2 linked regions of the Homo sapiens genome follow. The gene in region 2 interacts genetically with the main gene of each other region. Each region holds a gene or a part of one and is shown on either strand. Other genes may lie near its edges.

What was found.
Region 1: changes in GRK2 (region 2) and ALAD together harm fitness more than expected from each alone (negative genetic interaction), as found in Homo sapiens cells (one large-scale study listed by BioGRID).

Annotation. Positions count from the first base shown.
Region 1 is NC_000009.12:113,391,285-113,394,784, forward strand, and holds part of ALAD (delta-aminolevulinic acid dehydratase), read right to left. Parts: intron 2,354-3,500; exon of another isoform or gene 2,351-2,353; coding exon of another isoform or gene 2,276-2,350; coding exon 2,163-2,275; intron 1,052-2,162; coding exon of another isoform or gene 886-1,051; coding exon 835-885; intron 340-834; coding exon 243-339; intron 1-242.
Region 2 is NC_000011.10:67,276,293-67,280,104, forward strand, and holds part of GRK2 (beta-adrenergic receptor kinase 1), read left to right. Parts: intron 1-979; coding exon 980-1,056; intron 1,057-2,907; coding exon 2,908-2,981; intron 2,982-3,125; coding exon 3,126-3,227; intron 3,228-3,333; coding exon 3,334-3,408; intron 3,409-3,546; coding exon 3,547-3,608; intron 3,609-3,812. UniProt on the Homo sapiens protein: Specifically phosphorylates the agonist-occupied form of the beta-adrenergic and closely related receptors, probably inducing a desensitization of them. Key regulator of LPAR1 signaling.

The sequences.
Region 1 (3,500 bases), on a different chromosome or scaffold from region 2:
CTCGACTTTCTGGGCTCAAGCAATCCTCCCACCTCTCCACCTCCCGAGTAGCTGGGACTACAGGCACATACCCCCACACCCAGCTAACTTTTGTATTTTTTGTAGAGATGGGTTTTGCCATGTTGTCCAGGCTGGTCTCAAAATCCTGGGCTCAAGTGATCCACCCACTTTGGCCTCCCAAAGTGCTGGGATTACGGGCGTGAGCGCAACCTCCCTTCTTAGCCCTTCCTTTGATTCTTCACCTTGGGAACTCTGCTGGGGACGCCAAAGATCAAGACACAGCGTAGGCCCTCTTCCACCAAGGGCCTCAGCATCTCTTCCAGCCGCTTCACACCATACCTGTGTGGGTGTGGGTAGAGGGGTTGAAGGAAGGCAGGTCCCAGGCAACGGTCCTCCGGACCCCACCACACTGTGTGCCTCTGTTAGAAACCAAGCTGCATATGGCACCAGGAGGGCTCAAGCCCCCAGGACAGAAGGGGCAGGGATGCATCCACTAAATAGGAGGGAAGACTGAGGCCCTGAGTAGCAGAGCTCCGGAATTCGGCTGTGGAAGGCTCCTTCGAGGCCCTCTTTTTGAACTCCCATCTGCAGTTCAGCTCCCTTCTGCAACAGCCTCTGCCACGACGTCTCGGGTGATGGGTAGCTCTTTACTTTATGGGGCTGCCCCTTCCACTGTGGAACAGCTCTGGCCCCGGGGAAACCCTTTCCTCTACTGAGCTAATGTCTGTCTGTCCGCATCTTCTACTTCCTAGGTCTGCTTCTGCCTCCCAGCACTTCCACCTGTGGAATCTCTCCCTCCACCACCCGCTGGCCCCCCAACTCCACGTCTCCTACCTGGCCACTCCTGGGAGGCTGGTGATAGGCTGTATGTCATCAGGAACATCCCTGCAAGAGCGGGGGTGGGATATGGATTGGTAGCTGTGGGAAGGGCCAGTGGTGCGGGGGCGACTGAGAGGGATGGTTGGGAAGCAGGAAAGAAATATGGAAGTGGAGATGGTGGGAGGAGGATGGGATCCAGTGTCTGGCTTCCCTGCCTGGCCAAGCCCAGGGCCTGAAATAATAATAGGAACAACAAGAATAACAGTGACAACACTAGCAACTGTACTAAAAGAACGGTAATTACAGGAAGGAATTAAGTGGTTAAGAACTTGGACTCTGAATTTGGCAGGTCCTTGCTTTCTATCCCAGCCACTTACTGCCTGGGTGACCGTGGCCAAGTTCTATCATCTCTTTGAGCCTTAGGCCTTCATCTATATCATGCGTGGTTAATTCATTCATTCAACAAATATTTATTGAGTACTTATTATGTGCCAAGTACTGTTCTAGGCCCTGATGATACAACAGTGAACAAAATAGACAAACATCCCTGCCCTCATGGAGCTGATGTTCTAGAGGATAGCTACTCCTTCTTCATACAAATGCTCTCAGAATTGAATGAGATAATGTGTGTAGGTGCTTAGCATAGTACCTGGTAGATAGTAAGTACTCAGTAAATGTCTGCATTATTATTAACAATCACGATTGCCATCTCTTTTTTTTTTTTTTTTTTTTGAGATGGAGTCTGGCTCCGTCGCCCAGGCTGGAGTGAAGTGGTGCAATCTCGGCTCACTGCAAGCTCCGCCTCCCGGGTTCACGCCATTCTCCTGCCTCAGCCTCCCAAGTAGCTGGGACTACAGGCACCCGCCACCACGCCTGGCTAATTTCTTTGTGTTTTTAGTAGAGACAGGGTTTCACCATATTAGCCAGGATGGTCTCGATCTCCTGACCTCGTGATCCGCCTGCCTCAGCCTCCCAAAGTGCTGGGATTACAGGCGTGAGCCACCGTGCCCAGCCTCAATGACTGCCATCTCTTACAGGTACATAGCACTTTACAATGTACAGAGCACCTTCTCAGCTTCTGTCTTACTGCAAGAGCTCAGGATGGCAGGCAAGGGTTATTCTTCTAATTTTCCAAATGGGATGAATGAGTTCTTTCAAAGTTTGTTTTGTTCCTAAGATTCCTGTCCTTAATCCAAGTAGCCTGCTTCCAGTGCCTTGAATTTCAAGCTGACAGCTCACTTTGCCACCCCCAGCCATACTGATGCCCGCTCCAGTCAACACTCCCTCCCCAACCCCAACCCCAACCAGCAGAGCAGAGGCCTGGCCCATTCTTGGAGACTCACGTGACAAAGATGGGGTAGATGAGGTTGGAGGCATTGAGGGTGGTGGTGGCTGTCTGCCAGGCCCGAAGTAGTGGGTGGAAGTAGCCGCTGTGCAGAACGGACTGGGGCTGCATGGCGTGGGCCAGTGGGCACAGGGGCATCAGTTGGTTGGAACCGAGGGCTCCTGGGGCATTGGCTGCAGGCTCTGTCTGTGGGGGGTGATGGGTGGCACATGAGACATGGTCCCTGTCCTCAGGAGATGGTCACATCTGGAAAACAGCTCTTCTAGATTCCTGCCTCCCCTCTCTCTAGCCCAATGCTACTCACAGCATGGTTCACCAATCCCTGCTGGTCAACAAGGTAAGTTGAGAAATGAAAGTAAGTCTTTAGAAACTTTCATGACAATCAGAATCTAATGATATAAAATTTGGGCTTGTATTTTATGTGACTGCTTCTTGTTCATTATTATCTTTTAAAGTAAACATCTGAGCAAGCAATGACTGTTTAAAAAAAATTCTCTTCTTTTTTTTTTTTTCACACAGGGTCTCTGTCGCCCAGGCTGGAGTGCAGTGGTGCAATCTCGACTCACTGCAGCCTTGACCTCCCGGGCTCAACTGTTTCTCCCAACTCAGCCTCCCAAGTAGCTGGGACTGCAGGTGTGCACCACAACATCCAGCTAATTTTCGAATTTTTTGTAGAGATGGAGGTCTTGCCATGCTTCCCAGGATGGTCTCGAACTCCTGGGCTCAAGCAATCTGCCTGCCTCAGCCTCCCAAAGTGCCGGGATTACAGGCGTGAGCCACGGTGCCTAGCCAAAAAAGTAATTTTCTAGCTGGGCATGGTGGCTCACGCCTGTAATCCCGGCACTTTGGGAGGCTGAGGTGGCAGGATGGCTTGAGCCCAAGAGTTCGAGACCAGCCTGGGCAACATGGCGAGACCCTGTATCTACAAAAAGTTTAAAAATCAGCCAGGTGTGGTGGTCCACACCTGTAGTCCCAGCTACTCAGGAGGCTAAAGCAAGAGGATCGCTTGAGCCCAGGAGTTCAAGGTTGCAGTAAGCTATGATTGCACCACTGCACTCCAGCCTGGGTGAGAGAGGGAGACGTCTCTAAAAAAAAATAATAATTTTATTGCATTGCATTTTATCAAAGAATCAATAAATTGGAAATAGAAAAAAAAGAACTAATCCTTCCTTATGCATAAAGAAGCACTGATCTAGCCAACATTTAAACTTTGTTTATTCCACAAAAAATGCCCGTGTTCATGGCAGAACTTTTAGAAAAGTGCAGATAAGCAAAAAGAGAAAAATCCCCTGCAATTCTACCTCTAGAGAAAAGTACTGTTGGCCGGGCATGGCGG
Region 2 (3,812 bases):
GTTGGGACAGACCGGCAGGGCTGGGCTTGAGGTGGGCCAGGAGAGGGCAGGAGGGGACAGTAAGGTGGTATTTGAGGCCGGGAGTGTAGCCTGGTGTGGCGCTCCCAGACAGCACTCAGTGTGGGGTGAGATAAACAGGGTGGGGGATGTCGGGTTGGGTTTTGAGGGTCACAATGGCCAGGCCCTCCCCTATGGCCATACCAAGCAACCCAGGGCAGGGGTCACATTTTATATCCAAGTACTAGGGACACACGAACCAAGGCATGGCCTTTTCTTACAATTTAAAAAATTGAGATGCAATTCATATAAAATTCATCATTTTATTATACAATGTAGTGTTTTTTAGTACATTGACCGTGTTGTGCAACCCTTACCCCAAAAAGAAACCCCGTCCCCACCGCAGTCACTCCTCTCCCTCTCTCCAGCCCCCGGCAGCCACGGATCTGCGTTCTGTGTCCGTGGATCTGTTCATATGAGTGGAATCTCACAATATGTGGCAACCCTTTGTGACTGGCTTCGTTCAGCCTCATGTTTTCAAGGCTCATCCACGTTGTGGCCCCTGTTGGTGCCTTGTTCCTTTTTACAGCCGAGCCATGTGCTGCTGCGTGGAGATGCCACATGTGTGTCTTTTCATCCGCTCACAAACCAGGCTTGGCTTTTGTGACTTGGCCAAGTTCCCAAAGCCAGCCGGTGGCATCACTGGGACGAGACCCCACAGGCGGTGGGCCTCTGAGCAGGGGGCCACCTGCCGGCCACCCTGGCCTTTGAGGACACAGCCTGGCGGGGGCGGTGCAGGCAAAGGCTTCCTTGAAGCCTTCTGGTCTGACCTGTGGCTGGGATAAGTGAGTAGGCCTGACGGGCTGGCCTCCTTCCTGGAGGGAGTGGCGACACCACCACAGTGCCCTCAGCTCGCGTTTCTGGGCCTGCAGCCCCCACGGGCTCTGGGGGCTTCTGCTTACTGCGCCCCCCTGACCCACAGCATCCGCAGTGTCATGCAGAAGTACCTGGAGGACCGGGGCGAGGTGACCTTTGAGAAGATCTTTTCCCAGAAGCTGGGTGAGTATGGCAGTGGCTCTGCCAGCCACCGGACTTAACTTCTTGCCCCTACCCCAGCCAGCCCAGCTGTGCTCCCCACTCTCCAGAGATTTGGCCTCCCATCCACTCAGGGTGGAGCAGCCAGCGAGACCCCAGGGCTTGCTCCAAGTCGCTGCGACCCTGCGTGCCTCCTTGCCCCTGGCTGTCGGCCCAGGGAGCCCCGTGGTGGGGGTGGGGGCCCAGAGTCTTCCAGGGCCGCCAGGGAAGTTCCTCCTTTGGGGTTTTTGTTTTTGAGAGTTGCAGCTTCCCCTTGGCGCGGCCGCAGCTGCTCTGGGCCGTTGGTAGAACTGACAGGAAGAGGCGGGGCCCTTCCTGTGGCGCCTGCCGAGCTGTGGTTGGCCCCGCCCCACCCCATGGGCCCTCTTTGTAAGCAACCTGCCTGGTGTTGGCCCTCCATTCCTCCTCCAGCTGGTGTCTGATGCCTGCTGTCAGAAGTTTCATGTGACCCACCCTGCGGACCTGGCCCGGAGGGCAGGCTTGGGGCAGGTCTCGGGAAGCAGGCTCCAGCCCCACATGGCTCTGATTTGGCCTTCCCGAGAACAGGAGCTCAGCTCTGGACAGGGGGTATCCTGGCCTGATGGGATCAGGCATTGGGGGTCAGCCTGGGGGAGTCGGTGTGTCAAGAAGCACAAAGTTTGGGTCCCAGGCCTGTGCCTTTTGTCCTTGGGCAAGTTGCTTCACCTCTCTGAGCCTGATGGTGTCCTCATCTGGGAGATGGGACTCATGAGTCCGACTGTGCAGGCCTGTCAGAGTCAGATGGGAGCACTGTGCCCACTGTGAAGCCTGGCCCCCATTCCTCAAAGGCCCTGCACTAAAGGCCAGGCAGTGAGGACTGAAATGATGGCCGCAGCTCTGACCCAGGTGCCCAGGCAGTGCCCCCGAAGGCATGAGAGGCCACCCAGCTCGAGCCTGGTTACCCGTGTCAGACTGGAGGCCTGAGGAGGGCCTCTGTCCCCTGGTAGTGCTCGGGGGCCGGGGTCCAGGGTCCAGGCCCCTTACTCAGGCATGAGGACACCCTATCTGGGGTCCCCTGAGAGCCCCTCCCACAGCCCACCTTGCCTCTCCAGTTCCCTGTGGCTTACACCCGTTCCATGCCCCCTGCCCTGAGGCCCCAGCCCCAACCTCTTTCCCAGGGACCTGCCATTTGGTGGAGTAGCCCTGAGTTCCACTTGAGCCTCTGCCACAGACAGTGTGTCTGACCAGCTCCCTGAGCCCTAGTTTCCCCAACTGGACCCACCCTCCCTGCCTGTTTCTCAGGCTGCTGTGCAAATCAGCCAGACACTGGAGTGGGGCAGGGTCCAGAGGAGTGGTGTGGCCTCAGAGCCCCCTGCTAACCTTTTCCCCATGCTGCAGCCTGACCTGGCCCCGGTGGCCACAGCATCCCAGGGCCCCCAGACTGAATCGTGTTGCACCTGCACAGCCCGCCCCGGTGGGGGGTATCGGCCTCACAGAGCAGGCGCAGGGCCCTGGGCTGCAGTGAGTGGGGGCCCAGGTGCTAAGCCAGGGCTCCCTGATGCCAGAGCCAACCCCGCTCCTCTGCCTCACCCTGGTGCCCATCGCCGTCCAGCTACCACCTGGGGAAACAGATTTCAGGAAGAGGGTAGAAACACAGGGGCCCCAACCCAGAATCCAGGAATCTTCACGTTGGCAGCAGCCTTAGCAGCTGCCTGGCCCACCCCTTGCCTGGGGCCGAGACCACCTTTGCCACCTCCATAGCCAGTTCTGCCCAGGGAGCCCAACCCACACCATCCACAATGATGGGAAGGCCTCTGAGAGAGGCGTGGCTCTGTGACCTTACACTGTTGCCTTCAGGGTACCTGCTCTTCCGAGACTTCTGCCTGAACCACCTGGAGGAGGCCAGGCCCTTGGTGGAATTCTATGAGGAGGTGAGACCCAGAGGCCCAAGCCCTGCTCTGCCTGGAGAAAGGGGAGGAGGTTGGGGCGGCTTTGTGGAACCCACAAGCTGCCTGGTGTGGGCATCCCCATTCCCTGCTGGGCTCTAGATGACCTGCAGGAATCCTGTCCTCCAGATCAAGAAGTACGAGAAGCTGGAGACGGAGGAGGAGCGTGTGGCCCGCAGCCGGGAGATCTTCGACTCATACATCATGAAGGAGCTGCTGGCCTGCTCGCATGTGAGTGTCCTCAGCTGGCCCTGTGTGCTGGCCCAGAGTCACCTGCAGATTGGGAGGGGAAGAGAGGACCCTGCTGAGAATTCATGGCCACCTCTGTCTTCCCCAGCCCTTCTCGAAGAGTGCCACTGAGCATGTCCAAGGCCACCTGGGGAAGAAGCAGGTGCCTCCGGATCTCTTCCAGGTGTGTGCCTCCCGGTCCCTCCCCAGGCAAGGTCACCTTGGACAGCCCCTGGTCAACAAGCCTGGTCAGCCAGGGGTGGGGCCTGGGCAACCACGGTCTCTCGGGGCTCAGTCACCAACTTCCAGCTTCCTCCCTTAGCCATACATCGAAGAGATTTGTCAAAACCTCCGAGGGGACGTGTTCCAGAAATTCATTGAGAGGTGAGAGCAGGGAAGTGTGGGAGAGGAAGGGGGAGGGAGGGGCCGCTCTCAGAAGGGGTATGGCTGGCGTGGAGGGCAGAAGCCAGCCTTCATTAGGCCCTGAGCAGGCAGGTGGCTGGCCCGTCAGCGGCCCCCTTGCAAGGACTCCTGAGAAGTCAGACAGGCTGCAGGTCATCTCCCACCCTGCCCTCCTCAGCACCAGGC